7 linked regions of the Homo sapiens genome follow. The protein of the gene in region 4 interacts with the protein of the main gene of each other region in a biochemical or structural test. Each region holds a gene or a part of one and is shown on either strand. Other genes may lie near its edges.

Evidence for each region.
Region 1: of the proteins of ARRB1 (region 4) and GSK3B, one has a biochemical effect on the other in vitro, tested with the Homo sapiens proteins (one study listed by BioGRID).
Region 2: the proteins of ARRB1 (region 4) and MAPK10 interact in a test that uses a peptide from one of them, tested with the Homo sapiens proteins (one study listed by BioGRID and IntAct).
Region 3: of the proteins of ARRB1 (region 4) and MAPK1, one has a biochemical effect on the other in vitro, tested with the Homo sapiens proteins (one study listed by BioGRID).
Region 5: the proteins of ARRB1 (region 4) and EIF2AK4 form a complex in vitro, tested with the Homo sapiens proteins (one study listed by BioGRID).
Region 6: the proteins of ARRB1 (region 4) and CYTH1 form a complex in vitro, tested with the Homo sapiens proteins (one study listed by BioGRID).
Region 7: the proteins of ARRB1 (region 4) and NEDD4L form a complex in vitro, tested with the Homo sapiens proteins (one study listed by BioGRID).

The regions. Positions count from the first base shown.
Region 1 is NC_000003.12:119,909,002-119,913,183, reverse strand, and holds part of GSK3B (glycogen synthase kinase-3 beta), read left to right. Parts: intron 1-373; coding exon 374-480; intron 481-4,182. UniProt on the Homo sapiens protein: Constitutively active protein kinase that acts as a negative regulator in the hormonal control of glucose homeostasis, Wnt signaling and regulation of transcription factors and microtubules, by phosphorylating and inactivating glycogen synthase (GYS1 or GYS2), EIF2B, CTNNB1/beta-catenin, APC, AXIN1, DPYSL2/CRMP2, JUN, NFATC1/NFATC, MAPT/TAU and MACF1.
Region 2 is NC_000004.12:86,009,352-86,014,182, reverse strand, and holds the end of MAPK10 (mitogen-activated protein kinase 10), read left to right. Parts: 3' UTR 1-3,778; downstream 3,779-4,831. UniProt on the Homo sapiens protein: Serine/threonine-protein kinase involved in various processes such as neuronal proliferation, differentiation, migration and programmed cell death.
Region 3 is NC_000022.11:21,860,746-21,864,927, forward strand, and holds part of MAPK1 (mitogen-activated protein kinase 1), read right to left. Parts: intron 1-4,182. UniProt on the Homo sapiens protein: Serine/threonine kinase which acts as an essential component of the MAP kinase signal transduction pathway. MAPK1/ERK2 and MAPK3/ERK1 are the 2 MAPKs which play an important role in the MAPK/ERK cascade.
Region 4 is NC_000011.10:75,281,609-75,285,790, reverse strand, and holds part of ARRB1 (beta-arrestin-1), read left to right. Parts: intron 1-1,511; coding exon 1,512-1,556; intron 1,557-2,307; coding exon 2,308-2,504; intron 2,505-3,769; coding exon 3,770-3,829; intron 3,830-4,182. UniProt on the Homo sapiens protein: Functions in regulating agonist-mediated G-protein coupled receptor (GPCR) signaling by mediating both receptor desensitization and resensitization processes.
Region 5 is NC_000015.10:39,940,421-39,944,602, forward strand, and holds part of EIF2AK4 (eIF-2-alpha kinase GCN2), read left to right. Parts: intron 1-2,962; coding exon 2,963-3,065; intron 3,066-4,182. UniProt on the Homo sapiens protein: Metabolic-stress sensing protein kinase that phosphorylates the alpha subunit of eukaryotic translation initiation factor 2 (EIF2S1/eIF-2-alpha) in response to low amino acid availability.
Region 6 is NC_000017.11:78,775,339-78,779,520, reverse strand, and holds part of CYTH1 (cytohesin-1), read left to right. Parts: intron 1-4,182. UniProt on the Homo sapiens protein: Promotes guanine-nucleotide exchange on ARF1, ARF5 and ARF6. Promotes the activation of ARF factors through replacement of GDP with GTP.
Region 7 is NC_000018.10:58,330,726-58,334,907, forward strand, and holds part of NEDD4L (E3 ubiquitin-protein ligase NEDD4-like), read left to right. Parts: intron 1-12; coding exon 13-189; intron 190-3,092; coding exon 3,093-3,167; intron 3,168-4,182. UniProt on the Homo sapiens protein: E3 ubiquitin-protein ligase that mediates the polyubiquitination of lysine and cysteine residues on target proteins and is thereby implicated in the regulation of various signaling pathways including autophagy, innate immunity or DNA repair.

The sequences.
Region 1 (4,182 bases), on a different chromosome or scaffold from region 4:
TAGAATCCATTGTCATGCTTTTTGGTGGGGGAGGTACCTCTTTTCTGCCCTTGCTTCTTTGTATTTTAGAGGTGGAATTTGGGGAACAGAGGATCAGAAGAAATTCAACACTTATCCTTTTTTGCTTTTGGTGCCTTCTTAGGTGACAAACGCTTTCTTTAAAAATTGCTATTCTTTTTTGCAGAGCAAGGTGATAAAATTGTAAATTTCTTTTATTAGAGATAGTTACAGTTTACATTTTCTTTTTCATATATGATTCAAATGATGTGAATCTTATAAAATCATTTGATACTGTGAAAGGATAGCAGTCTAAGTTCTTTAAGGTTTAGATTTAAAGAATTTCTGCTTTTTATTTTTATTTTTTTTCTGTTAGTGCAAAGCAGCTGGTCCGAGGAGAACCCAATGTTTCGTATATCTGTTCTCGGTACTATAGGGCACCAGAGTTGATCTTTGGAGCCACTGATTATACCTCTAGTATAGGTAAGTACAAATCTGAATATAATGCTCATAATTATTAATTGCTTCTTGATTTTGGTAATTTAGTACTACTAATCTGTACTTTTATTTCCATGGAAAGATGGATATATCCCATAATGTTTTTTTTCTTAAAGCTTGAGATGCAAACATGTATAGGCATACCTCATTTTATTATACTTTCCAGGCACTGCTTTTTTTTTTTTAACCTCTCAAAGGTTTGTGTCAACCCTGAGTCAAGCAAGTCTGCCCACACTAGTTTTATAAGAGCATGTGCTCACTTCATGTCTTTGTGTCATCATGTCTTTGTGTCACATTTTGGTAATTATTGCAACATTTCAAACATTCTCATTGTATCTGCTATGGTGATCTATGATCAGTGGTCTTTGATGTTACTATTGTAATTGTTTTGGTTTGCCACAAACCACAACAATATAAGACAGCAAACTTAATCGATCGGTGTTGTGTATGTTATGAATATTCCACCAGCTGGCCATTCCCCATCTCTCTTCCTATCCTCAGGCCTCCCTATTCCCTGAGAGACAACAATATTGAAATTAGGCCAATTAATAACTCTGCAGTTGCCTCTAAGTGTTCAAGTGAAAGGTACATTTTTCACTTTTAATCAAAAGCTAGAAATGATTAAGCTGAGCAAGGAAGGCATATCGAAATTGTGCCACACAGTTAGCCAAGTTGTGACCAGAAAGGAAAAGTTCTTAAAGGAAATTAAAGTGCTACTCCAATGAACAGATGAATGATAAGAAAGTGAAACAGCCTTATTGCTGTTACAGGGAAAGTTTTAGTGGTTTGGATAGATCAAACCAACCACAACATTCACTTGAGCCAAAGCCTAACCCAGCAAGGCCTGAACTCCCTTCAATTCTGTGAAGACAGAGAGGTGAGGAAGCTACACAAGAAAAATCTGAAGGTAGCAGAGGTTATTTCATGAGGATTAAGGGTAAAAAGCTGCACCATGCCATAAAAGTGCAAGGCAAGCAGCAAGTGCTGATGTAGAAGCTGCAGCAAGTTATCCAGAAGATCTAACTAAGATCATCGATGAAGGTGGCTACATTAAACATCAGAGTTTTAATGGAGACCAAATAGCCTTCTACTGAATTGGAAGAAGATACCGTTTAGGACTTTCATCTCTAGATTTTCTAGAGATGGAAGACTTCTTCTAGAGAGGAGAAGTGTCATTGCCTGGCTTCAAAGCTTCTAAGGACAGGTTGACTCTCTTGTGAGGGCCTAATGTAGCTGGTGACTTTTAAGTGCAAGCCACTGCTCATTTACCATTCCAGAAATCCTAGGGCCCTTAAGAATGATGCTGAATGTATTCTGCCTGTGCTGCATAAATGGAGCAACAATGAGTGGATGATAGCACATCTGTTTATAGCATGGTTCACTGAATATTTGAAGCCCACTGCTGAGACCTACTACTCCAGAGAAGAGTATTTCTTTCAAAATATTACTGCTTATGGACAGTGCAACTGGTCACCCAAAGGTTGAGAAATACATTTGTAAGGCTATAGCTGCCCTAGATAGTGATTAGTCTGATGGATCTGGGCAAAGTCAATTTTAAATCTTCTGGAAAGGATTCACCATTCTAGGTGTCACTAAGAACATTTGTGACTCAATCACATGAACAACATTTTGGAAGAAGTTGATTCCAAGCCTCATGGGTGACCTTGAGGCATTCTAGACTTCAGTGAAGGAAGTCTCTGCAGATGTTGTGGAACTAGCAAGAGAACTAGAATTAGAAGTGGAGCCTGAAGATGTGACTGAACTGCTGCAATCTCATGATGAAACATAAACAAGTTGCTTCTTTTATGGATGAGCAAAGAAAGTGGTTTCTTGAGGTGGAATCTACTAGTGGTTAAGACGCTGTGAATATTGTTGAAATGACAACAAAGGATTTAGAATATTACATAATTGTAGTTGATAAAGCAGCAGCAGGGGTTGAGAGGACTGACTCCCATTTTGAAAGTGGTTCTAATGTGGGTAAAATGCTATCAAAGAGCATCTCCTACTAGAGAAAAATCTTTCATGAAGGGAAGAGTCAGTTGATGTGGCAAACTTCATTGTCACTTTAAGAAATTACTCCAGCCACATCGTATAGCCTTCAGCAACTGCCACCCTGATCAGTCAGCAGCCATCGACATCAAGGCAAGACCCTCTGCCAGCAAAAAGATTACAACTCACTGAAGGCTTAGATGATCATTAGCATTTTTTTTTAGTAATAAAGTGTGTTTAAGTTAATGTATTACATTTATGTTTTTATACAATTCTATTATACAAGTAATAGACTACAGTATAGAGTGAACATACCTTTTATATGCACTGGGATACCAGAAAATTGGTGAGACTTGCTTTATTGTGTCTTATTGTTATGGTCTGGAACCAGTTCTGCAACATCTCTGACGTATGCCTGTATAGAATTTTTCAAATTCTACTTTTTAGAATTTAAGGTATACCTACTATTCTATTTTTCTTCCTTGGACTGTTAGAATCATAAAGCTAATAGCTTTTACCTTAAGAATTTAAATTAATTCTAAGTAACTTTTTTTTACTTTCTTATTTAAAATCCTCCTGAAATACTTCTGAGCATGATTATACTAGTTGGATAATTTATTAATTAATGTTATTTCATTAAGTTAATAATGAAAGTGATAGTATGGCCATATTGCTAACATTTCCTTCATGCCATCTCCATTATTTAATATAAAATCAGCTTAAATCACTAGTAGTTTTGCTAGATGCACTGATTCTGCAGAAGTATGCACCCAAGATGTTTAGTCATAGAAGGAACTGAATAGAGACCATTAGCTTTAATCATCATTGACCTTCTCAAGTCTTCACCCCAGATGTTTAGTGATAGGAGGAACTGAATAGAGACCATTAGCTTTAATCATCATTGACCTTCTCAAGTCTTCACCCCAGATGTTTAGTGATAGGAGGAACTGAATAGAGACCATTAGCTTTAATCATCATTGACCTTCTCAAGTCTTCACCCAAGATGTTTAGTGATAGAAGGAACTGAATAGAGACCATTAGCTTTAATCATCATTGACCTTCTCAAGTCGTCACCCAAGATGTTTAGTGATAGAAGGAACTGAATAGAGACCATTAGCTTTAATCATTATTGACCTTCTCTTTTACTACATCTTAGCCCACTAGCCAGGAGTGAACAGAGAGAGCATGATCAGCTGGACATGAATAGGAAGCTAACAAACAAGGAGCAACTTTAAGCTGGATGTGCAAGTGGAAACCAAAATTATTTTACTCTTACATATTGTTTCTGAAGAGAATTCCTTTAGTCCAGAAACAAACAAAAGCATGCAAATAATAAACCAAAAACATCCCCACAGTAACAGAAAACCAAAACAAACAAAAAACAGACCTGGCCTGGTGCAGTGGCTCACACCTGTAATCCCAGCACTTTGGGAGGCTGAGGTGGGCAGATCACTTGAACTCAGGAGTTCGAGACCAGCCTGGGCAACATGGTGAAAACCTGTCACTACCAAAAATTAGCCGGGCGTGGTGACATGCCCCTGTAGTCCCCGCTACTTGGGAGGATGAGGTGGGAGGATGGCTTGAGGCCAGGAGGCAGAGGTTGCAGTGAGCTGAGACTCCACCACTGCACTCCAGCTCGGTGACAGAATGAGACCCCCCCTCTCAAAACAACAACAGCAACAACAAAAAATAGAACAG
Region 2 (4,831 bases), on a different chromosome or scaffold from region 4:
GGGGCTCATTTTGGAACATGAAGTTGGCACTCTGAGGAGCCTAACCTTCTGTTAGGCTTCCTTTGGGGCAGTTGGTTTGCAGTGATCCTTAATAAAATAGTTTGCAGTATTTTGTAGGAAGGATGGCTGTGTACTCATGTGCAGGGAAAATTAAACTGCTGCAAGAGTTTGGCAAAACCGCCACCACTTTACTATTAATATGTCTTTACTATTTTTATATGTGTTTTGTGGGTCAGCGTGTTCAATTTTAAATAGGAATACACTAGCCTTACAACGGAATTTCTTCTTGTGGAATAAAAACTGATAATAACCTTTCATCTTCAAGAATCTGATGACTGAGTTTTGTAGGAATGTACCCAACAGTTGGACCAGAGCCTGGCCAGTTCCCACCAATTGGAGTAAGCTATTTAATTGAGGGTTAAGAAGCTCGATAGTTTTTTCAATCTGTTATCAGAAAAATATTATCTAAAGACACTGATAGCAGCTGACTGGTAAAACTGAAAGTTGGCCTTAGTAAATGGAACTAGTAAAAAATAGATAAAAATATGTAAAACCTTTTATGTCCTGTCAAGGAAAAAAAAATAAGCAAACTTGATTTGTTTTAAAATTGTAAATATTCATTGCAAAACCTAAATTATACAAAATCTATTTCGATTTGAATCTCTTAACATATGAAAAGCCACATCTTAAGTGCATTATGCTCTGTAAGGCATGTTATTAGCCAGCTTTGCTGAAAAATGTATTCTTCTACAGCTCAGAAAGAGGAGTAAAATTGCTCTAGAAATTTTTGATCTCAGCCACTTTGCATCCAAAGAGGAACCCAACTCCCCACTCACAATCCCCCACACACATTTTAATTATAAGAGTTCAACATTTTCCACAGATATCATTAAGCCAAGCAAGGAAACTCCTCTCTGTAAAAACAACAAAAAAGTTGCAATGTAAATAGTTATTTTAGCTATTTTCTTTGTGATTAGAGGATAAGATTTTGTTATTTCTTTTGGTACTTAGTCCTTTAACTATCTGAAAATGGCTCACTTTGACCTGTTTCTTTGGTCAGCCAAACTGAAGTGAGGGGCCTCTGTTTATATATAGAATCTTGTATATGTAACTTTACTTATGTGGGACCAATGGCCAGTATATTCTAATGGACACAAATCTCCCAATCCTTATGTAGGATTATCTGTTCACCTTGCCATGTCCATCTTGCAATGAGACCTAACTTGCACCTGCCTGTTTTTCTGCATGATTGGACTCCAAAGACTATTACCAATGATGAGAATTGTCTTGTGTCAGTGTTTATAAAATGGACTTAAAGCACACACACATGCATACCCACATTCACATGCACCCTTACAGTTCTAGATCAACCCTGGAAGGCAAAACCATGTACGTCCAGTTTCTTTGCAAGGTCTGAGCAGTGAGAACTAAATTCAGTCAGTCTAATGGGTAAAATGCAACCTCAGTGATGCTTAATAAGGATTTGAAATCGTTCAAGTCATTTCTGTGTTCTTTCTCACACCCTTTCCTTTCTATTTTGTCTTCTTTTATTTTCAAAATGTCTGTGGAACAAGAGGATGAATCGGGGGAGAACTTCTGCTTCTTTTGACTCTTTTTAGGTAATATGGAGTCAATATATTATGATTTCTGTTTCTTATGGATTATTAAAATCAGAGGAAATCTGCTTCTCTCAACATAAAACCAAATCCAAACCCAGACATTGTTGGAGTTTGCCTGTTGACAATGGTTATGATGCTGCTCGTTGTCTTGAGTTGCATGTAACGACAGTAGCTCTGAAGGGTGTCATGATTTCATTTTGGCAACTGGTAAAAGAAACTTGTAGTGTGGTCTGATTGTGCCAGGGAATAAATAAGAAATAAGGAATGACCTACTTTCTCACCTTGGGTCAAGAGTGTGTGATATGAATGTGACCATGTAGAAATCTGTGTTTTCATTTGACACTGGTTTCTTCTAAAACTGACCTTCATTTCTGTCTGTAGATACTAGTTGTATATCTGCAATTCAGTAATTTCTTTTTAAGGTATAAAATCAATGAAGAAAAAAAAGATCATCTTTTGGGGGGGCATTAGGTAAGTAGAGCAGGGTTAAATTTCCCAGATTAATTATCAGATTTCTATTCATTTTAACTATTTTCCAAGAGAAAAGGTAAAAGCCTTTGTTTAGCTACATGATATCCAACTTTACTATCTCAAACTCCTTGGAGAATTAAAAATATATATGATTTTGTGGCTGGATGAAGAGGTCACTGCACTTGCATTAGTTTACTTTGCAGTGTTTGAACAGTTGAGGAGTGGCTCTTCTATTTCTGTAAATAATGTTTTATTTAACCAATTAACTATTAGAAAGCCTGGAAGATAAACATACACATTATTTTGAGTTATCACATTTATCGTTTTACCTAGTTCCTGTTGGAATATAGAAAGCAACAGCTTTTTGTTATCTCTGGAACAGCTTCTATCCTAGTTTAAATCACAGATCCTTACTCTCTTTAAAAAAGGTCAAGCATAGGTACCTAAAAATACCCACAATAATAAGAAGGGAAATTGCATTCCACAAGATGATTGCTCTTAAAGAGTCAGAAGGAGTTATTGGTGCATTCCTGATACCATAAATGGTTACCAAACATTTGGTAATTTTGACCAAGTTCACAGTAAGGAGAAAAAAGGGTGTTGGACTTGCTTTTCTTGAAGATTACTTATGGAGCAACCAACCTAGAAGGATGAATCTACTTGCCAATAACAACACTGGATCACAGCCAAGGCAGAGGTTTTTGACATTCCCAATTCATCATGGTGGTGTTTTGTATTTGTAACATGTCTTTTCTCCACAGATGTTGAAAGGCATGCTTGGATGACACATGCTAATAGTGAAACACGCTGAAAGTCCTGCCATCACAGATCACTTTATGTTGGGAGCCACTCTATGTGGCAAGTCATCTGTCCCAGTTCCAGACTAAATTTCAACTGTTCAACCATTTACATCATTGTAGTCTGTTTAAGGCACTAAAAATGTGCTGTAGAAATTTATATTTCTCAGACACATGAAATGTGGTGACACATCCAGCAACAAGTCAAACACTCCTTTGAAATTTTCTACCTTATGTCAAATATTTCTTACTTTTAAAGACATTCCTATCCTGGTGTAAAATCCAACATAAAATAATTTGAGGGAATTTAAGGAATTCAAATTTCACTCCGTGGGGTACGTGGCTTTATTTCTTAATCACTGAACTTCTAGTAATGTTCTTCACCTGATCTTGTCTGCGATGTTTAACCAACAGTCCAGATCATTTGCAACTCAAAAGCAGGTACAAAATGTTATCCATCTTAAAAACCCCTCACATATTCCCTAGAAGACTGTCCCACACATAATTCGCCTTCCATTAACACTTGTGAACCCATCCTGGTGAAAATATTGCCTATGAACAATTATACCAAAAAATCAATTTTTATAATGCAAATAATATTTTACACAGACCAAGAGAATTCATAATATTAAAGTATTTCTTTTATAAAAGGAAGGTTTTCAGAAAGCAATGGCCTATTCCTTCATGTTAATACATTGCGAACTTGGATTTGGTGTAAATCAAGCCCTGAGAATATTGCTCTGAATTTCTAGCTTAATTTCTGAGCAACATTCTAAAGCAGTTCATTAATTTACTCCAAAAACATTTCTTGGACACTTCGGTGTAGGAGATATATATTGCATGGTCCTTAACCTAAAAAATTCAGAGTTAATAAATCTTTGTTTAAAAAAACTAAAGCAAATATTTTTATTTCATTTATTTGCTATCTTTTTACAAAATGTATTTAAATTAGTGGTGTGACTTGCACGAGTCCATTTTTATTATTTGCTTAAAGCGATGAAACAAGGAGTCTGCTTCTTTCAATGTTCTTATTTTGTCTAATTATATAAGTATACTTCATGAATCAGCATGAGAATTTTGAATATTTTCCATTACAAGAGATGAAACCACTTTTAAAAATTATTTAAAATTTAAAATTCATTTTAAAAATGCATGGATGTTCTTTTCCGCATTGCAGAAAGTTTGCTTTGATGTATGGTTCCTCTGAGAGCTATTGGACCTAGATGCTGACTGAGCATGGGGCTTATACTTTTGGCATCACAATCTCCAAATTAGCAAATGATATCACAATGGGTACTGAAGCTTCTTTGCAGTGACATTCTTACATGAAGCCAAATCTTCGGAGTTTGTTCAGTCTATGGGTGACTGTTGGAACCCTAAAATAACTTAAAGTAGAATTTGGTCATTTATTGTTTTTTTTTATTAAAAGGTCCAACTGAGAACATCCCTGAACATCTGAACCAGAAATTTGACATAGAGCTCTAAATATTCACTCATTCATTCATGCAACAAATATTTATTTATCAAGCACGTCAACCATCCAAGGACTGTTCTAGGTACACATAGTTGATGTGATGAAGTCAGCAAATCTGCCTTCACATGGTCTGCATTCTAGTGGAGAAGTCAGATAGAGGTAAGTACGAAGACCACAAAGCAGGTTAAAAAGTAAGGTGGGAAAGGGATGCTATTTTAGACAAGGTGGTCAGGGCAAGCCTCTCAGAAGAGGGGATAAGTGCTCAGAGACCTGACTGAAGTGAGAGTGAGCTATTGACACGGAGAAGGGCATTTCAGACTCTGAAGAGAAAGCAGGGGCAGGCTTTGGAGGGAGAGCTTGTTTATATAGACAAGGAGGGGCAAAGAGTCTTGTGGATAAAGCAGAATGAACAAGAGTAAATGGGATTGTAAATGAAATTGGAGAGAGAAGCAGGGGTCAGAGCATGGCAA
Region 3 (4,182 bases), on a different chromosome or scaffold from region 4:
ATTGCTGTTCCTGCCTTTCAAACAGGTGGTACAAACACCCAGCAGAGATCCATGAAGAGAGTGCATTAACAGGAAGCAATAGGGCAAAGTTCATAGAGATGAGCTTTAGAGAAAAGCGGGACTTAAATAGAGCCTGATGTTTCTTGGGGCAGGCTGGGGTGCTGTACTATGGGCATCTTGGCAGGATGATTCTCCAGTGGAGGGAGTGTACCGTGCAATCCAGACCATTTAGCATGTCTGCCCTTGACATGCCTACTGACGGCCAATAACACCCCCTAATCAACGTGACAACACAACAAAAAGCCGCCCCCCTATACATTTCCAAATGCCTCTGTAGCAGGGAGGTAAAATCACCCCCACTGAGTACCACGAGATAAAGTAGGCACAATGCGGCCAGGTGCAATGGCTCACGCCTGTAATCCCAGCACTTTGGGAGGCCGAGGCAGGTGGATCACCTGAGGTCAGGAGTTTGAGACCAGCCTGGACAACATGGCGAAATCCTGTCTCTACTAAAAATACAAAAATTAGCCAGGCATGGTAGCACACACCTGTAATCCCAGCCACTCAGGAGGCTGAGGCAGAATTGCTTGAACCCAGGAGGCAAGGTTGCAGTGAGCCTCCAAGCAAAACTCTGTCTCAAAAAAAAAGTAAGTAAGTAGGCAAAATGGGCAGAAAGCATAAGAGATAAAGTGGGAGTGGAACTGGCAGACAGAAACAGGGCCATCCTTTAATGACTCCGTCACCCACAAGATCAAGTCCAAAGTCCTTACCAAATAATGCCCTTCAGGATTTGGCCCTGCCTACCCCCAGCTGTCTCAACTCCCACCTTCTTACTAAGGCACCCTACACTCCAGCCTTCCCAAGTAATTTGTGGTTTTCCTGACCTGATGCACTGTGTTCACGGTCTGTGCCTTTACATGCACACTTCGCTTTGCCTAGAAGGCATTTCTCAAGGCAAACTCCTACTCACACATCAACACCTAGCTCAGAAGTCTGGGAAGCCAAAGAAAGACAGCCCCAAGTCACTCAGCTCTTCTCTTCCTCTCAGCACTTCACAAACTCCTGGGTAACACTGGTATCTTCTCTGTATTATTCCCCAATTCCATCCCATTATTTGGATGAAGAGTTCAATAAACATTTTCTGAGTAAATAACTCTACATGAAAGGTTTTAAAGGCTAAAAAGTGATACAAGCAAAAGCAGACAACAGATATTTCTTGTTACTGAAATAATCTATTTTCTCAACTCTGATCTTTGGTGGAGCACTACTTAGGAACCAGAAAAACTGGGGTTGCTTCATCACTTCCTAGCTGTGTGTCATTGGGCAAGTTAACTAACCTCTGTGTGCCTCAAGTTTCTTCACTTGTGGGGTAAAAAACAAACAGAAGTTACCACTTTTGCTGTACAGTTATATGGCTTAGCATTAATGTATGTAAAATACAAAACAAGAGTGCTGAAAAAGTGGTAGTTCTACTAGTCTGCTATAATCACAATAACCTTAACAAGACAGGAGGACATTGTACCATCAGGAATGTGATCACAATGAAATTTTAGTTGAAACCATCCCCCTCTTTTTTCTTTTATTCATTCAGCTTTCCCAAGTTGAACATCCCCGCTTTAAAAAAAAAAAAAAAGAGGCCAGGCACAGTGGTTCACACTGTAATCCTAGCACTTTGGGAGGCTGAAGCAGGGGGATCACCTGAGGTCAGGAGTTTGAGACCAGCCTGGCCAACATGGCAATACCCCGTCTCTACTAAAAATAAAAAAATTAGCCGGGTGTGGTGGCACACACCTGTAATCCTAGCTACTCGGGAGGCTGAGGCAAGAGAATCACTTGAACCCAGGAGGCGGAGGTTGCAGTGAGCCGAGATTGTGCAACTGCACTCCAGCCTGGGCGACAGAACAAGACTCTGTCTCAAAAAAAAAAAGAGCTGAAAGTCAACAAATATAATGGCTTGTCAGCTGCATTCTGTTTCCCTCCTATAGTACTCAATACCAATCCCTTAATGAGTACCATCTCCCTTGGCTCCTTTGATAACGTGCACTCCCAGTTCTTTGGTCTCTCTGGCCACATTTCCTCTGTCCTCTTCCATAACTTGACCTTTATTGACACAGTAAAGGCAGGCACTCCTTTGGCTTAGTTCTCAGATGTCTTATCCACTCTTAAGGCTTCAATTAATATCTCTATGAAGATGACCCCATGAGCTCTCTTGTCGCATTCAGAAACAGCATTTCAAACTCAATTAAACCAAAATAGACACTTGCTATCTTAGTCTAAGATGACCAAGCATACTAAGAGTGTTTCAATCTCTCCTCCTCTCCCTCCTCCCCGTCTACACTGTTCCCTTATACATCTGACCAGTCATCAGTTTCCTCTTCTTTGCCAGAGTTACCTGGTTGGTCCTCTGTTCTACTTCAGTGGTTCTTAATGTTTCCAGGATAATGGACTCATTTGAAAATCTATCAAATGCTATGTATTTTTTAACCAAAAAGATAAATATAGAAAACATATAATTACAATTTCTTTTTTTTTTTTTTTTGAGACCCAGTCTTGCTCTGTCACCCAGGCTGGAGTACAGTGGCGCGATCTTGGCTCACTGCAAGCTCTGCCTCCCGGGTTCACACCATTCTCCTGCCTCAGCCTCCCCAGCAGCTGAGACTACAGGCGCACACCGCCACGGCCGGCTACTTTTTTTTTTTGTATTTTTAGTAGAGATAGGGTTTCACCATGTTAGCCAGGATGGTCTCGATCTCCTAACCTCGTGATCCGCCCACCTGGGCCTCCCAAAGTGCTGGGATTATAGGCGTGAGCCACCGCGCCTGGCCATGATTGCAATTTCACCTAACCAATGACCCAGATAAGAATCTGTGCTCATCCACTCAAGATTTTAACTACCATTTACACAAATTTTCATCTCCAGCTCCTGCTCCCCTCTTACAAATTTTAAGATGGTTTCTGGATATAGCCTGAATGGCCTACAGGCATTACAAACTTAAGTTCAAACCAGAACTATTTCCCCCTGACAAATCTGCTCTAACAGTATTCCTTTACTTGGATAATGGCACCACCATCTCCCAGGCTCCCAACCTAGAGGCCTCAGAATGAACAACCGCCCATAGCCAATCAACCAGCAAGCCTTGTTCTATCTCAGAAATCCCTCCAAATCCAAATCCCACCTCTCTTGGTCTCTTACCCTTTAAGGTCTCATAATCCTTTGATTCCACTCAGACTTGCCATGATTAAAAGTCTTTTTACCACTCTTCCCACAAGGGTCCCTGTTACTATTTCTGTCAATACAAAACTCCTCACCTCCATCTGCTACCTTCCGCTGCCACTTTATTACTGCACCTCTAGGTGGTTAGGCTTTCCTAATTTATTCCTCCACTCCGGTTCTTCTTCCTTCATTCCCACTAGTGTTGATTTGTCTTCCCAAAAAATTTCAAAATTGACCATGTATGACTGCCTCTTTCAAAAAAAGGCCGGGCACGGTGACTAAAGCCTGTAATCACAGCACTTTGGGAGGCTGAAGTCAGGGGGACCACCTGAGGTCAGGAGTTTGAGACCATCTTGGCCAACATGGCAAAACGCTGTCTCTACAAAAATACAAAAAAAAAATTAGCTGAGCATGGTGGCACGCGCCTGTAGTCCCAGCTACTCAGGAGGCTGAGGCAGGAGAATCGCTTGAACCTAGGAGGCAGAGGTTGCAGTGAGCCGAGGTCATGCCACTGCACTACAGCCTAGGCAACAAGAGTGAGACTCCACCTCAAAAAAAAAAATAAACAAATAAATAAATAAATAAGATGCTTCCTCCACTGAACAAATATACAGTCAAACTTAGTTTTGCCTTTGGAGTCCTCTACAGTTTGCCACCTAAGTACATTTCCAAGATTAGATTCCACAGCTCAAGCTGTCACTTGTTCCTATTATCTGCATATCAAAATCACACCCACTCTTAAAGGCCCAACTCAAATCCCACTCTTCATCTTTACATCCTCTACATAATCATTAGGAAAGGACTCTAAACAAAATAGTCACAATTCCTAATGAACTGATAAGGAAACAGAAGGGGGTAAATCTAAAAAATGGCTAGAAATCCATAAATCCTTTTGGAAGCATTTTTTAAAAGATCACCATTCAAATATTAGTGAATATTTCAACGAGCCCTCCATAAATCCAGCACTG
Region 4 (4,182 bases):
GAAACCAGCCCCCAACACACGCAGGCACCCTGAGAGCTGTTCAGCAGGTGTTCACAGAGCACCCCCTTTGTGCCAGGCCCCTTGTGAGCCCTGGTATCCCCGAGAACTCTGGGGCACTGTGCAGAGCTGATCAGGGACTCACTGTGAGAGATTCTTCTCCCATAGTGACGCTGCCATTTGGCTTGATCTGATCACACCCTCCCTATGCTTACCGGTTCCCCACCAAACCTGCACACAAGTCCAAGCCCACTGGCCTGCCCAACAGGACATTGATGATCCATCCTGGCCCTCCTCTTCCACCAGCAGTGAAGTGACAATGGGTTAGAGGGTAGGGGGAGAGAGAGAGGAAAGAAAGGTTTGGCCAAAGATAGACAGGGGATGTCAGCCAAGGGGGTGACCCTGAGCCAGTGTTTCTGGCCTCCTGGGGTGCTGAGCAGAGATGTCCTTTGTGTCCAGCTGGACTCTGCCCCCAAGGGCAGGCCTCAGGGCACTGAGGCGCCTTCCACAATCTGCAGAGTGCTCTCGAGTGCTTGGCACTGTCTAAGCGCTGTACACATATGCACATTCACACATGTACCCATTCAGTCGTCACGGGAGCCCCATGAGGGAGGCACTGCAGATCACAACCCCCAATCCACATGTGCCAAGCCCAAGCTCTGAAAACCTAACATTGCTTCCAAGTTTAATGCAGAATTCATTTATTGGCAAACCTGACCCAAACTGATGCGAGGCTATTTATGCCTTATTTAGCCTCTTGGTGAGAATATTTGTGTTTTCCTACAGAGGTATTAATGGCTTTAATAATAAGGTACAGATCTTGCAGAGGTCATTACAGAATATATGGAACATGTACCATTTTGCCTATTTTATTTTATTTTATTTTATTTTGAGACAGAGTCTCGCTCTGTTGCCCAGGCTGGAGTGCAGTGGGATGATCTCAGCTCACTGCAGCCTCTGCCTCCCAGGTTCAGGTGATTCTCTTGCTTCAGTCTCCCGAGTAGCTGGAACTACAGGGGCCCGCCACCATGCCCAGCTATTTTTGTATTTATAGTAGAGTTGATGTTTCACCATGTTGGCCAGGCTGGTCTTGAACTCTTGGCCTCAAGTGATCCGCCCACCTCAGCCTCCCAAAGTGTTGGGATTATGTGCATGACCCACCACGCCCGGCCCATTTTGCCTCTCTATACTTCGCAATTTCTAAATTCCAAAGAATACCTGGTTCTAGGAGTTTCGGACCTAGGTTATTATTCTTACTAGCAGATGAAGAAACAGAAATGGTCTCTAACCTGCCTAAAGTCACCAGCTGGGTCTGTTATACTGGCCTGGGATGGGGGAAGGGTGGAGCGTGGTGGAGGTGGGCAGTGCCACCCTCTAGGTGCCCGCCTTTCCATTTTTCTCAGGATGATTTTAGATGAACAGATGGTTGGATCTGGGCTTGGGCTGGTGTTTGGGGCACAGAGGTTTGGGAGACCAGGTTGGGAGAGGCCGCTTACTCTCTGTCCTTTCCCCAGATGGTGTGGTCCTGGTGGATCCTGAGTATCTCAAAGAGCGGAGAGGTAGGCTGTGGCCCCCATCCCCAGCCTGTCAAGGGCCGCCTCCTCTTCCCCCCGGACCTCTAGCATAGGAACTCCCTGCCCATCCCCACTGGTTCCCCTGAAAGCCCCAACAAATACCTCTACAGATGCCGTTGCCTCCTCCAGCCTGGGACGGCCCTGCCCCAAGCTTACTTTGGGAGAAGGTTTCCCCATGCCCTGAGCACTTTCACATCAATATGTCATGACTGTGGCAAGGCTGGGGATGCCAGCAGGGTAGGAGTAGGTTCTTCTTTAACAGAACAGAACATTGATACCGGGGCAGTATCAATGCGCAGGAAGACAAGAGTGCAGACTGAGCTGTGACAAGACGCTTGCCGTCCAGATACCACCCAGCACTTGCCCTGCCCCCACAACTCCCTGCTCCTTCCCCAGGTCCCCTACCCCCACCCCAGGCCTGCCAGACTACTCCAGCCCCCGCCAAGCCTGTCAGACCGTTTCCATACCCCTCCACATATGCCCTGGGGAGAGGTGGGAGGGGGAAGGACAGAGCTGGCTCAGCAGGCAGCCCCCTCCTCCTCCCAGGGGCCAGGCCATGGCATCCTTCCGGTACTCACTACCAGCCCTCCTGGTGGAGACAGTGCAGCCATCCCCACAGAGCTTGGGACAGGCTTGGGGCCTCCAGTGGGGCCCGTCCCAGGGCTGCTGCCGGCACTCTGGGGGGCTCGCTTGCTGCTCTCCCAGGCCCCTCCTCAGTGCTCCTCGCTCCCCACAGTCTATGTGACGCTGACCTGCGCCTTCCGCTATGGCCGGGAGGACCTGGATGTCCTGGGCCTGACCTTTCGCAAGGACCTGTTTGTGGCCAACGTACAGTCGTTCCCACCGGCCCCCGAGGACAAGAAGCCCCTGACGCGGCTGCAGGAACGCCTCATCAAGAAGCTGGGCGAGCACGCTTACCCTTTCACCTTTGAGGTCAGGAACTGCCATCCCTGGGGCCCCATTCCAGAAATGCCACCTCTAGGAAGCCCTCTGGGGTGGGCATAAGAGGGCGGTGAGGGTCAGCTGCTCCCTGCCACCCAGTTTCCCAGTGTATGCTGGGACCTGGGGCACTGTCACCTGTGTTACCTGGTAAGTGTCTCTTCTCCAGCCCCTGCTGGGGTTTGTCACCTGTACCTTTGGGCTACTCCTCAGACCCTTCTGAGGCCAGGTCATTGGTGGGAGAAAGGGGGTGCTAAGGGGCTTCAGAGAAAGAAAGAGCCCTTTCTGGACCCTGCATCACTGCAAGGGGTTTCCCGCTCAGATCAGCTCCCCACTTGCCCGGCAGCAACCCAGCTCGCAAGAGAGGGATGGCAAGTAGGTGATCTGTCTGCCCCACCACCTTTCAAATCAGAGACTTTAAGATGCTGGATTTCAAAATCTCAAGTTTCTTAGGCTCTCTGATTCTGAGATTCAGTGTGGTCTCTCCCTTTCTTGGAGGCTGAGAGAGTGGAGAGGGTCATGGAGTCACCTTTTCTACGTAGACATGTTAGCTCCCTATGGCTGCTGAAACAGATTGCCACAAACTCGGCAGCAATTAAAACAACACAGATGTATGAGCTTACAGCTCTGGAGGTCAGAAGTCCCAAAACAGGTCTCAGTGGGCTACCATGGAGGCGTGGCAGGGCTGGCTCCTCTGGAGGCCCTCGGGGAGCGTCCACCTTTTCCAGCATTGCTTTCCTTGGCTCACAGTGCCTTCCTCCATTGTCAAAGCCAGCAGTGGCCGTTGAGTCTTTTGTACATCCCATCACTGTGGCTCAGACATTTCTGCCCCCTGCTTCCACTTCTAAGGACTCTTGTGATTATACTAGGCCCACCAAAATCATCCAGGATACGGTCCCCATCTCAAGGCCTTAATTGGATCTGCAAAGTCACTTTTGTCATTAAGGTCCCAGGTTTGGGCGATTAGGGTGTGGACATCTTTGGGGAACATTATTCTGCCAACCACAGTAGACATCATAGAAAGATCTATTTAAACCATTGCTGCGAGGACTGGGCTGGGCCAAACCCTTTAGATAAAGAAAGCTCTTTATCTAAAGAGTTTTAGATGGGGCATGGCTTGGCATGGTCTGATGGGATAGACATGGCCTGTCCCCTGGGGCCCTTGGTCTGATGGGTGTATGGGAGTGTCTGGGCTGCAATACATGAGACAGGACAGTGGTGGATGTGACAGGTGGCTCGTTCTGTCCTCTTCTTGACAGATCCCTCCAAACCTTCCATGTTCTGTGACACTGCAGCCGGGGCCCGAAGACACGGGGAAGGTAGGTCACCCCAAGGGGACCATCTCTCTGGCTCCAGGAGTCTCATGTCCCCAGGTCCCTGGCTTTCTCCCTGGGAGGTGCTGGACACACAGGACCACTCTCCCTGTTGAACAGTCTTTGTGTCTAGGCTAAGCTGGTCCCACCTTGGACAACCAGTCTCTCTTCAGACAGGGCAGCAGGTACGGGGTCAGCCTCACTCTCCCATTCAGTGATGGGTCTGGAGGCTCTCCTGGGTGGCGTTGGCTGCAACAGGACCAAAGTGTTCTGAGGACCTACACCTGGCCTCATGTAACCCCTGGCAACCTGGAATCAAAGTGCGATCATCCCCATTTCACAGATGGGGAAACTGAGGG
Region 5 (4,182 bases), on a different chromosome or scaffold from region 4:
ACTCTGCTTTACACAGTGGGTGGTAAATTTATGGAATTTATTATCCTAAGAAGTGATAGGGAGGATATGAAAAGACAGATAAGTCAAAATTGAGCTCCTTGAAGTCAGTAACCATTCTTGGCCCCCAAAACTGTCCTGAGAGTATTATAGTAGGTATACTATACATACTATAAAAATATTAATTAACGAAACGTTAATTATAAAACATTAATGAAAAAGATAATTAAAAATTTATGAAAGGAAATTAAAAGAGTGCCTCTCTAGGTTGTTTTTTTTTCCTGACACCAAATACATGATGCCTTTTCTGATACCATGTGGGTGTCCAGTAGTTCAGTTCAATTCTGACACTATCTGTAGTTAGCAAAGACCCCACAGATTAAGGACCCAGTTCCACAAGATTGCCTCCATTTCTGATGCTAGTGGCAAGTCCCAGTACTTCTGACCATTTATAGCCAGTATTTATAACTGGCTATAAATTTAGGGGTTTCCACCACCCCCTCCTAAGTTGCGATAATTGCTAGAATGCATCACAGAACTCAGTTTCTGTGAGTTACATTTACCAGTTTGTTGTAAAGGATATGGCTCTGGAATAGCCACATGGAAGTATTATGAAGGGTAAGGTGTGTGGGAAGAGGCACAGAGCTCCCATACCCTCTCCAGGCCTGGCACCCTCCCAGCACCTCCCTGTGTTCTTCAACCAAGAATCTCCCTGAACCCTGTCGTTTAGGGGTTTTTATGGAGGTTTCATTATGTAGAGATGATTGATTAATTAAATCTTTGGCCACTGGTGATTGAACTTGATCTTCAGCCCCCTACTCCTCCCTAAAGATCTGGGATGGGGCTGAAATTTCTCACCCTGTAATCAAGGCTTGGTTTTTCTGGTGACCAGTCCTGATCCTGAAGCTATCCAGGTACTGACCAGAGTTCCCTCATGAGTACTAACTCCGGTATGGTTGGAAGGGGTTTGTTATGAAAAACATAAGATGCTCCTCTCACCCCTGTTGCTCAGGAAATTCCAAGGGTGATAGGATCTCTGTGCCAGGAACAGGGGTCAAATATCAAATATATATTTTTTTATTATACCATAGCCTCAAGAATTCAAAGTGTTTATTCTTGAAAAATCAAAATAAAGAAAAAGGTATAAGTGCTATAATGTTATATAAGTGCTAAAATATTAATTATAGCATTATTTGTGAAAGCAAAGATATTGGAAGCAATCTAAATGTCAAATACTAGAGTGAGGTTTCTCCACCTTGGCACTACTGACATGTGGGCAGATAACTCTTTGTTGTGGGGTCCTTCCTGGGCATTGTGGGATATTTAGTAGCATCCCTGACCTCTGTCTGCTAGATGTCGGGAGTACATTTCTCCCCAGGTTGTGGCAACCAAAAAAAGTCTCCAGATGTTGGCAGATATCCCCTGGGGCCAAAATCACCCCTGGTTAAGAATCATGGCACTAGATAACTATTCAGGTAAATCTTAATGTGTCCACTTGATAAAAATATTATGGGATGATTGCTTTTAACATGGAAATGCTTATAAAAGTTAAAAAGCAAACATTATAATATCAGCTACATAAACTATGAATTATATAGCAAGGAAATAAAGAGAACATTAGAATTTTTTTTGAAGTTTAATTAGCATCATTGATGATTTTTTCTCCATTCTGTTAATATTGCTATATTATGATTACTTATTTTTTAAATTATAACAAAAATCTTAATTTGGGGTAATATTCTTATCCTTTTGAATGTGGTACAGGAAAACATTGCTTTTCTGCAGAATAGTCCTGGGTGCCACTGTGAGAGAGAGACTCCCGGGTTAGATTCTGGAATTCTGGAAATTTCAGCCCCATCCCAGACCTTTGGGGAGGAATTCTAGAAATTTCAGCCCCATCCCAGCTCTTTGGGGAGGAATCTAACCCAGGATTCCATACATAGAGTCAGGACTGTATGGTTTGTTTTTCTGTTCTTTCCCTCATATAGACTACTTTCTCTCAGATTTCTATCTATAGAAATAGATAATGATCATAGCACCCTTTCATACTGAAGCATTGAGAGAACGCATAGATAAGTGCATACTCAAGACTTCACTGGTTAAATGCCATGAATTACTCAGAAATGCTTGGTAAAAAGTGATGAGTCATCATCTCTTCAGTAAAATTAAATAACTCCTATTTAATCTGAGAGAGTTGTTATTGGATATTTATTGGTTGGGAATAAAATGAAACCCGAGGGCTGGTTGTGTAATGTCCTTGAGTTGAAAGTGTTGACTTAGATGAGCTCTAGGCAGAGGTGCAGAGAGTGTGCATGACTAGATGTATTTATACACAAGAAGTGAGCATTTCCACCTGGTTTCGATCAGAATGAGTGATTGGGATGCAGCAGTGTGTTGTGGGAATACTAGAGGGATCACCAGGGCTCCACTCATCTATTTATTCTTGTTCTGCTTTATGCTAGAGCACACCTGAATGCAGAGCGCTTGGCCTTGCCAGTGAGCTGTCAGAGCTAGGTTAATTCTCATTGGCTGCAAGCTAGGGTAGAGAATTACCATACAAAGGAGCACATGGTTAAGTTACTGGGCTAGAGTCAGCTGCAGAACTGGAATGATTTTTTTTTTTTTTTAAGGTGAAGAACTCAGAGTTAGGGATCCAGGTCAAATCGTAGGAAATAAATAGTAATTGATGTTGGGAAATTTTAATCAGATTGTAAAGCTGAAATTAGATACAGGGGTCAAGCCCAGTAAGTCTAACAGCCCAGACAGAAGGCTTTGGCCAGCCCACTTCTTCCCTGTAGGACGCAGGTGACTCCACTGTCAACTGGAGTTGCAGGGATATGGTTGAAGTCCCTTTGAGATTAAGGGCCTTGGGCCCAGAGTGCTTTCAGTTTAGCAAATATTAATGCAAACAGGCTATACTTTCTGGAGTAACTCTTTTTTTTTTTTTTTTTTTTGCCTTTTCCAGAGTTCCTGAAATAGAGTTAAAAAATGCCAAAGGTCTATCAAATGAAAGTGTCAATTTGTTAAAATCTCGCCTAGAAGAACTGGCCAAGAAACACTGTGGGGAGGTAAGATTTGTTAAACTGGAATTAAAAGAAGACAGTAAACTTCCCCATTACACCTCAAATCCAATTTTGAGTAGCATGTTTTGTGTTTTATTGGTTCTACAAAAGGGAACATTGTGATTTTTATTTATTTAATAGGATTAATGAAATTTGTAGTCTATAGATGGTACTATTGATGCTGAAGAATGTTTCTGAAAATTGCTAGGCATGGTGGCTCACACTTGTAATTCCAGCACTTGGGGAGGCTGAGGTGGGAGGATCACTTGAGCCCAGAAGTTTGAGACCAGCCTGAGCAAAATGGCGAGCACCTATCTCTAAAAAAATTAACTGGGTGTGGTGGTGTATGCCTATAGTGCAAGCTGCTCAGGAGGCTGAGGTGGGAGAATTGCGTGAGCCCAGGAGTTTGAGGTTACAGTGAGCTATGATCACACCCCTTCACTCCAGCCTGGGCCATAGAGCAAGACCCTCTCTCTTAAAAAAAAAGAAAAAAAGAAGAAGAATTTTTCTGAAAACAGTTGATGTGAACCCAGCCATACTTTTTGTATACTTTGGATCTTGCATCATGACTTGAACCTTTTTGTTGGAAAATGTGGGCAGACAAACAATTTCGGACCACCTCTCCCCTTTGCATATCAGAGGAATTTGTTGTTTTCTTTCTCAATAATTAGTGACACACTCTACTCCTTCAGTGTCTGTCATATACCTGAGCATTTACACTGAGTGCAGTACTCATTCTTTTTTAATCTTCTGAACATTAGGATCTACATATGAGTTCTCTCCTGGGTGGCACAACTCTCTGTGGAAGGCAAGACTAAGTGTCTTCTGGAGGCAGAGTATGACTGTGCTTTCCTTAGGCCAGACCAATTCCCTCGAAGTATAACGCTTCTTTGCCCCACTTTTGTGTAAAATCACTCAGTGTTTTTGCCTGGCAGCTTATGTTTAACGATCTCTTTTTTTTTTTTTTTTTGAGGCGGAGTCTTGCTCTGTCACCCAGGCTAGAGTGCAATGGCGCAATCTCGGCTCACTGCAAGCTCCGCCTCCCGGGTTCGCGCCATTCTCCTGCCTCAGCCTCCCGAGTAGCTGGGACTACAGGCACCCACCACCATGCCCGGCTAATTTT
Region 6 (4,182 bases), on a different chromosome or scaffold from region 4:
AAGTTCTGGGGATTAGTACCCGGACTTCTTTAGGGGCTGTTATTCTGTCTGCCACACACGAAGATGAGAAAGTTTGTAAGTTTATTCTTCCCCTTTCTTTTTTTTTTTTTTTTTTTTTTTGAGATGGAGTTTCACTCTTGTTGCCCAGGCTGGAGTGCAATGGCGCAATCTCGGCTCACTGCAACCTCTGCCTCCCAGCTTCAAGCGATTCTCCTGCCTCAGCCTCCTGAGTAGCTGGGATTACAGGCATGCGCCACCACGCCTGGCTAATTTTGTATTTTTAGTAGAGACAGGGTTTCTCTGTGTTGTCCAGGCTGGTCTCAAACTCTTGACCTCAGGTGATCTGCCTGCCTAAGCCTCCCAAAGTGCTGGGATTACAGGCATGAACCACCCCGCCTGGCCTGTTCCCCTTTCTACAGTTTTAAATATCATCCTTTTATTTTGGAGGAACTAAAAAGATTGAAGATTCCCCACCCAGAGGGTCACCACACAAAAAGTACCTGATGGTGTAAGATGATCATATGAAGAATAAGACTCCCAAGTTCTTTAAGGTTTGTGTTAGTCTCCAGAACTGTCCATTTCCCTCATAGGTTTCACAGAGAATTTACCTTGACCAGATCCCACATTGTAAAAGGAAATGTGTGTGATGGATTCATAAAGCATATAACATGACGTGTTCAGACGTCACCTCAGAACTTCCATTGTTTTCTTTTAAACAAACTTTTTATTATTATTATTTTTTAAATAGTTGCAGAGTCTCACTATGTTGCGCAGGCTGGTCTAAAACCATCCTCCCGCCTTGGCCTCTGAAAGTGTTGGGTTGAGTCACTGTGCCAGGCCTAATTAAACTTTTTCTTTCTTTTTTTTTTTTTTTTTTTTTTTTGAGATGGAGTCTCACTGTGTTGCCCAGGCTGGAATGCAGTGACGCAATCTTGGTTCACTGCAACCTCTGCCTGCTGGGTTCAAGTGATTCTTCTGCCTCAGCCTCCCAAGTAGCTGGGATTACAGGCACCTGCCACCACACCCGGCTGATTTTTGTGTTTTTAGTAGAAATGGGGTTTCACCATATTGGCCAGGCTGGTCTTAAACTCCTGACCTCAAGTGATCCACCTGCCTTGGCCTCCCAAAGTGCTGGGATTACAGGCGTGAGCCACCACGCCCGGCCCTAAATAAACTTTTTAAACCTTAATTTTTTTTCCCTTTTTTTTTTTTTTTTTTTTTTTGAGACAGTCTTGTTCTGTCACCCAGGCTGGAGTGTGGTGGCACAGTCTTAGCTCCCTGCAGCTTCCACCTCCTGGGTTCATGCGATTCTCCCTCAGCTTTCTGAGTAGGGGTTACTACAGGCACATGCTATCATGTCTGGCTAATTTTTGTATTTTTAGTAAAGATGGGGTTTCCCCATGTTGGCCAGGCTGGTCTTGAACTCCTGACCTCAATTGATCTGCCTGCTTCAGCCTCTCAAAGTGCTAGGATTACAGGCCTGAGCCACCAAGCCCAGCCTAAACCTTAATATTTGATTTTCAGAATAATGAGAAACATTTCTTGTGGTGTTAACTTTGTGTGTGCGCTGTTTTCAACAGTGCTTCCTCTGTCCCTGTCCCTGTCCCTGCTGCGTAAGTTGGTAACGTTTTGTGAATCAGCCTAGGACAGGTACCACTGTTTTTAGAATTCTTTCTTTTTTTTTTTTTTTGTATTTTTAATAGAGATGGGGTTTCACCATGTTAGCTAGGATGGTCTCGATCTCCTGACCTCGTGATCTGCCCGCCTCAGCCTCCCAAAGTGCTGGGATTACAGGTGTGAGCCACCGCGCCCGGCTTTAGAATTCTTTCTGGAGGGAAATGCATTGTAATTTCCTGGCTACCTTTTAGTATTAAAAAACTTTTGGAACATAGCTCATTGATAATATGCTATAGAAAGAGAGTCTTAGAGTTTCTCTGTCCAATTAAAGACAATTTCAAAAACCAACAAAAAGGCTTTCTCAGTTCCAGTACTCTTTTGTATTCATTAGATAGGGACAGTTTGGTTCAGACTACACCTGTGTGGGATATATCTTTACTGGTTTGTTTATTTATTTAATTTATTTATTTTTATTTATTTATTTTTGAGACGGAGTCTTGCTCTGTTGCCCAGGCTAGAGTGCAGTGGCGCAATCTCGGCTCACTGCCAGCTCTGCCTCCTGGGTTCACACCATCTCCTGCCTCAGCCTCCTGAGTAGCTGGGACTACAGGCACCCGCCACCACACCCGGCTAAATTTTTGTATTTTTAGTAGAGACGGCGTTTCACCATGTTAGCCAGGATGGTCTCGATCTCCTGACCTCGTGATCCATCCGCCTCCCAAAGTGCTGGGATTACAGGCGTGAGCCACCGCGCCCGGCCTTATTTTTTTTTTTTTGTGAGACAGAGTTTCACTCTTGTTGCCCAGGCTAGAGTGCAATGGGGCGATCTCGGCTCACCGCAACCTCCGCCTCCCAGATTCAAGCAATTCTCCTGCCTCAGCCTCCCAAGTAGCTGGGATTACAGGCATGCGTCACCACGCCTGGCTAATTTTGTATTTTTACTGGAGACAGGGTTTCTCCATGTTGGTCAGGCTGGTCTCGAACTCCCGACCTCAGGTGATCCCCCTGCCTAGGCCTCCCAAAGTGCTGGGATTACAGGTGTGAGCCACTGCACCTGGCCTATTGGTTTCTTTTTTTAAAAAAAAAAAAACTGTTTATGGCACTGTGGAGTCCCACCAGACAAACCATTAACTTAAGAAAATACTATTCTGCTCAGGAAAAAGAAAAAAATCGTAAAAATTAAATTTTGCATACATTTTCTTTATAACATGCATACTGTGTGTACTTTTTTTTTTTTTTTTTTTTGAGACAGAGTCTCGCTCTGTTGTCCAGCCTGGAGTCCAGTGGCACGATCTTGGCTTACTGCACCCTCTGCCTCCCGGGTTCAAGCGATTCTCGTGCCTCAGCCTCCTGAGTAGCTGGGACAACAGGCGTGTGCTACCACGCTCAGCTAATTGTTTTGTATTTTTAGTAGAGATGGGGTTTCATCATGTTGGCCAGGCTGGTCTCGAACTCCTGACCTCAAATGATCTGCCCGCCTCAGCCTCCCAAAGTGCCGGGATTACAGGTGTGAGCCATTGCGCCTGGCTTGTGTGTACTGTTGCCAGTATATATTTCTGTGTAATAATGTTCAGGGTTGTAAACAGAAAACCACATATAATGCACTTTAAGGGAGTATTTGCGGGATTTTCCAGAGAGTATGTTCATCCTGTTGCTCTGTAATGGTCATCATTTTGGGGCTAATGACTGCAGTTGCCGTGATTCAATTATGAACTTCCTTTTTAAGCATAATTTCTTTTTTTTGTTGTTGAGACAGAGTTTTACTCTGTTTCCCAGGCTGAAGTGCAGTGGCGTGATCTTAGCTCACTGCAACTTCTGCCTCCTGGGTTCAAGTGATTCTCCTGTCTCAGCTTCCCAAGTAGCTGGGATTACAGGCATGTGCCACCACACCCGGCTGATTTTTGTATTTTTAGTAGAGACGAGGTTTCACCATGTTGGCCAGGCTGATCTCAAACTCCTGACCTCAGGTGATTTGCCCACTTCAGCCTCCCAAAGTGCTGGGATTACAGGTATGAGCCACCGTGCCTGGCCTTTAAGCATAATTTCTATATAAACATTTAAAATGAAAGTTGCTGGAGTCTATCATGTTCATTATAGCAAATGCATGTCTTATTTTTGTTCCTTTCAAGAAGTTAGCTTCAATTAGGGAAGTTGTCAACAGAGAATTTTAAAATAATTTTTAGGTGAGTTTTCAAATGAAAAGGAAGAGACGTCTGCAAATGTCCTTTACTTATTCAGCTTCTGAAATACCTTACTTTTTATTTGCCTTTGATGTAATTTTTACATTGAGTTCCCAGATTGATTATCTAAAGCAGGAAAGGTAGAACTAATTCATTATCTAAAACAAGAAAGAACAAATTTCAAGTTAAAATAGCAGTGTTTTCAGCAAGAATTAAAAAAACGAGGTTTCACTTTCTCTGTAGAGGAAGAGTGGTGGGGTAAGACATTCAAGAAAGTTGTTCATTCGCATATTTCGAGAAGCATTGAGGTCCAATTGCATAAAAACGTATCTGCTGTCTCTAGCTTTGGCCTTTGAGGGAAGGATATAAGGGAATACTCAGGACA
Region 7 (4,182 bases), on a different chromosome or scaffold from region 4:
CTTCTCTGAAAGCCTTGGGAGACCATTTCAGAGGAAGTGAATATCGCTGGAGACTCTCTCGGTCTGGCTCTGCCCCCACCACCGGCCTCCCCAGGATCTCGGACCAGCCCTCAGGAGCTGTCAGAGGAACTAAGCAGAAGGCTTCAGATCACTCCAGACTCCAATGGGGAACAGTTCAGCTCTTTGATTGTAAGTAGTGGCCTTGTTTGAAAGAAAAGCTGAGCAATGTTTTATTGTTTTTTGTTGCTTAAGGAGAATCTCTTACGTAAATAGTGACCAAGGGTCTTCCAGCTCCCAGCTAACTCTGACATTTTCCAAAGTTCCTCCTTCCCTAGGAGAAGCAGGACTGTACTAAAATTAGCCCAAGCAGGTGAGAATCTTTCTTGATTTGGAAGGCAGCTTTGCTCACCCTTATACCACTAACACTTTCTTGGTTTATAAAGAACTCAAAGAAGTAAAACTCCATGATGTCTGTAATTATTAGCTTTAACCTTGTAGAATTCCTTTCCCAGCCAAAAGGCTCATGAAAATAGTACCTTTATCACAAAGGTAGTATTTCACAGTAACAATTAAAAGCCATCAGGCCTAATCAGTCCTCTTAAGTCATATTCTGCAGGATTTATCATTCTCATTTCGCTGATAAGGGCACAATGCTTAAGTGGCTCATCCAAGACAAGGTTTGAGTGGGAGATAGAAGACGTCTCCTAAGTCCCAGAGTATGAACCCTTGAGAAATGTTGTGAAATTGTGACACTGTCATCAAGGTAGCATTTTAACTTGGGCTCTCAACCATCAGAAACATACTTTCTAGAAGCTTCAGATGGGCCCAATGCCTGAGCCCAATGGAATCAGTCACAAAGACTTCCATGTTTGACAATACAAAACTGTGCAGAAATAACCCATAGAAAATCCCTGCTTGTGCATAGAATTAAGAGCAAATGAAGTCTCAGTGTTTCTCAAGAAACTGAACTTAAAAATGTACAATAGTAAATGATGATAGTCACTCCACTGAAAATGGCATCCTAAAAAAAAATAGTCATTACTATGACCATAACAAACATAAATGATAGCACTGCATACAATGTAAAAGCAAGTAAGTACTCACAAAATTGTTACTTTTTGGTTATGGTGTTTTTATTTTAAAAGACAGTATACGCCTCTATTACATGAGTTGCATTTATCATTCAGTTAATGTGATTTCACTTTGAAATTCTGTGACTTTTTCAAAAAGAGATGTGTCGCCAAGATGAAAATGTAGTACTAAATGGACAGGATAAAAGAAATTGCATATATATGGGATATTTGAACTGATAAAACTGTTGTTATAGAAACAACATAAACAATGAAGCCTTGTATTTAAAACCTATAAAAGCAAGGAGGTACCACAGAATCCATGGCAGTAACACACCTTTAGTAAACCAAGTAAACACTGTAATTTTTTTCAGCAATAATCATAAGTTAGCAATTCTAATTATTTAAATGAGGAGCTCCTGAATTTAATTATTCTAGATCTGTGAAATATCATTAAGACCCAAATACAATGTTGTATTATTTCACATCGTGTTCACTGTTAAATGAGAGTCAAATCGGATATTTGCTCATTGGGATTACCCTGTATTCAAGGGGAAGAACATGAGCTTTGGCTGGGCACGGTGGCTAATGCTTATAATCCCAGCACTTTGAGAGGCTGAAGCAGGCGGATCACCTGAGGTCAGGAGTTCAAGACCAGCCTGGCCAACATGGTGAAACCCCGTCTCTACTAAAAATGCAAAACTTAGCCGGGTGTGGTGGGGTGCACCTGTAGTTCCAGTTACTCAGGAGGCCAAGGCCCAAAAATTTCTTGAACCCAGGAGGCAGAGGTTGCAGTGAGCCACGATTGCGCCACTGCACTCCAGCCTGAGCAACAGAGTGACACTTTTATTAAAGACTGATTCTTTCACAGTAACCAATGTGGGAAGATGTGAATTGTCCCCCATCCCTACCACAGAGTCTTCTTGTACCATTTACTTATCACAAAATATTAAAAATGAGTAAATACTAGAAACTGATACTATGGATGAACTTGCCGATAAGGAGACTCTGGCTTCTGTGTGTGACCTGCTGCTAATCTTCATTCATATCAATTAGGCTTCATTTAACCACATAGACTAATACAAACAAGTTAGAGGAATATTAAGACACTACACAGTAGATCTTTTTTTTTAGCTTGATCTCACTATTTTTAATCATTCCTGTCTTTACTACTTGAAGTCCACTTAGAAGCTAAAATTGGCTGAGCATGGAGGCTCACACCTGTAATCCCAGTACTTTGGGAGGCCGAGGTGGGTGAATCATCTGAGGTCAGGAGGTCGAGACCAGCCTGACCAATATGGTGAAACCCCATCTCTACTAAAAATACAAAAAATTAGCCAAGTGTGGTGGGGGGGGCTTGTAGTCCCAGCTACTCAGGAGGCTGAGACAGGAGAATCACTGGAACCTGGGAGGCAGAGGTTGCAGTGAACTGAGATCATGCCACTGCACTCCAGCCTGAGCAATAGAACAAGACTCTATATTTAAAAAAAAAAAAAAAAAGCAGCTAAAATTATAAATACCAGATCTTTCAGAAGTAGGCCAAGATGATGTCTGAGCTCCTCTGAATATAGGATGCAACTGACTCTTTTTCAATTGTAGTAATCAATAAATGTTGGGTAGCCACATATCACTATTTCTTCCGTCTATTCACATCACATTAAAATTTACCCTGAGGGTGCATCTTAGAGCAAACTACAAGACTGCTAGCTTCTTTCTGTTTGTAAAGCAGCATTAGAGTGTTGCAGAGTCCTGTTGAGTCTCCTTTCTGAAAGTTTTGGTCTCCTCTTACTTTTGCCACTAATTCTAAGGACCAATCAAAATTCCAGTCTGCTTAACTGAAAATTAAAGTGAAAGATAACTTTTTCAAGGATGACTGTCCTTGCTCTGAAAAGATGTTTCATTTAATTACCTTCTAATATCGAAGAGCGGTGAATATGGTTGAGTGATATGTTTGTTAAACCAATGAAAGTTGCTTTTAAGAATATATTTCTTGATGCTTCCTGTCTTTTCCTCTCCTTCCAGCAAAGAGAACCCTCCTCAAGGTTGAGGTCATGCAGTGTCACCGACGCAGTTGCAGAACAGGGCCATCTACCACCGGTAACCCATGCTAATTTCCAGTCATCAGTTGACTTTTTGGGCTTTCATTTACAATCATCTGGGCTGCTGCAAAAAGAGTTTTTCCTGTGTAAATTTATTTACAATATAAATGAGATGTTTTTAAATTTCCTGGCCAATTGCCCTAGGAAAGTGGATTTCCAATACAGAGAATTGTTACTGCCACCCATCTCTAAAATGCTGGAACCTCCATTGCTTTAGTTTTTCACCCAAATTTATACCAATTTTGATTTGCTCACTTAAACCTCTTGGTACATTAGTTAGTAATTCCTTTTACCTTATTGAGTTACTATAGTTATGCTCCAGTGATCTGTACTTTGAAAACACATTGAGTCCCTTTAACCAGGAAGAACTCTTCTGGGCGACCGTCCACATGTTCCTTTCCCTTCCTAATGACCTGAAGTCTGAACTCTACAGAGCCTCTGTACCTTCTCTTTAAAGGCAGCTCTGCTCACCAGGAATTGGCTATAATTCTTTCCAACTCTCTCATCATTTTAATAGCTATCAGCAAATGTAGAGGTGTAGGGGATTTTGTAACATCTGATGTATGTAAAAAGAAATATTCAAGTTGGAAGGCAGACTAGAACTGCCCTGAGAGATGTTTGATGTACACATTAAAAATAAGAAATTTTACATAAATTTGTTTCTTCTTTTGGAGGTGAAAATATGTGGTTTTAATGTGTTCAATTTGATATTTTACCTTGACAGTTTTTGTCTGTTGCTACAAAACCTTGATCATTTTTAAGACTAATAATGTATTACGTATGAATTTGAAGGGGGAAAAGTGCATTTAAGGTTTTTGAAATCACAGTGTCTTCCCTCTCATGTATGTTTTTTCTTGACTTCAAAGGATATTTTGGCCTAGGTTTTAATTTTTTATGTTTGAGAAAAAATTAATGAGTATACTAGTCAAGGAAGCAGTCAAAATAATAGAGTCATTTGTGACTTACACTGGAGAGACTTAATAATAAGCTTGATAAGAGCGTCTTTTCTGGGA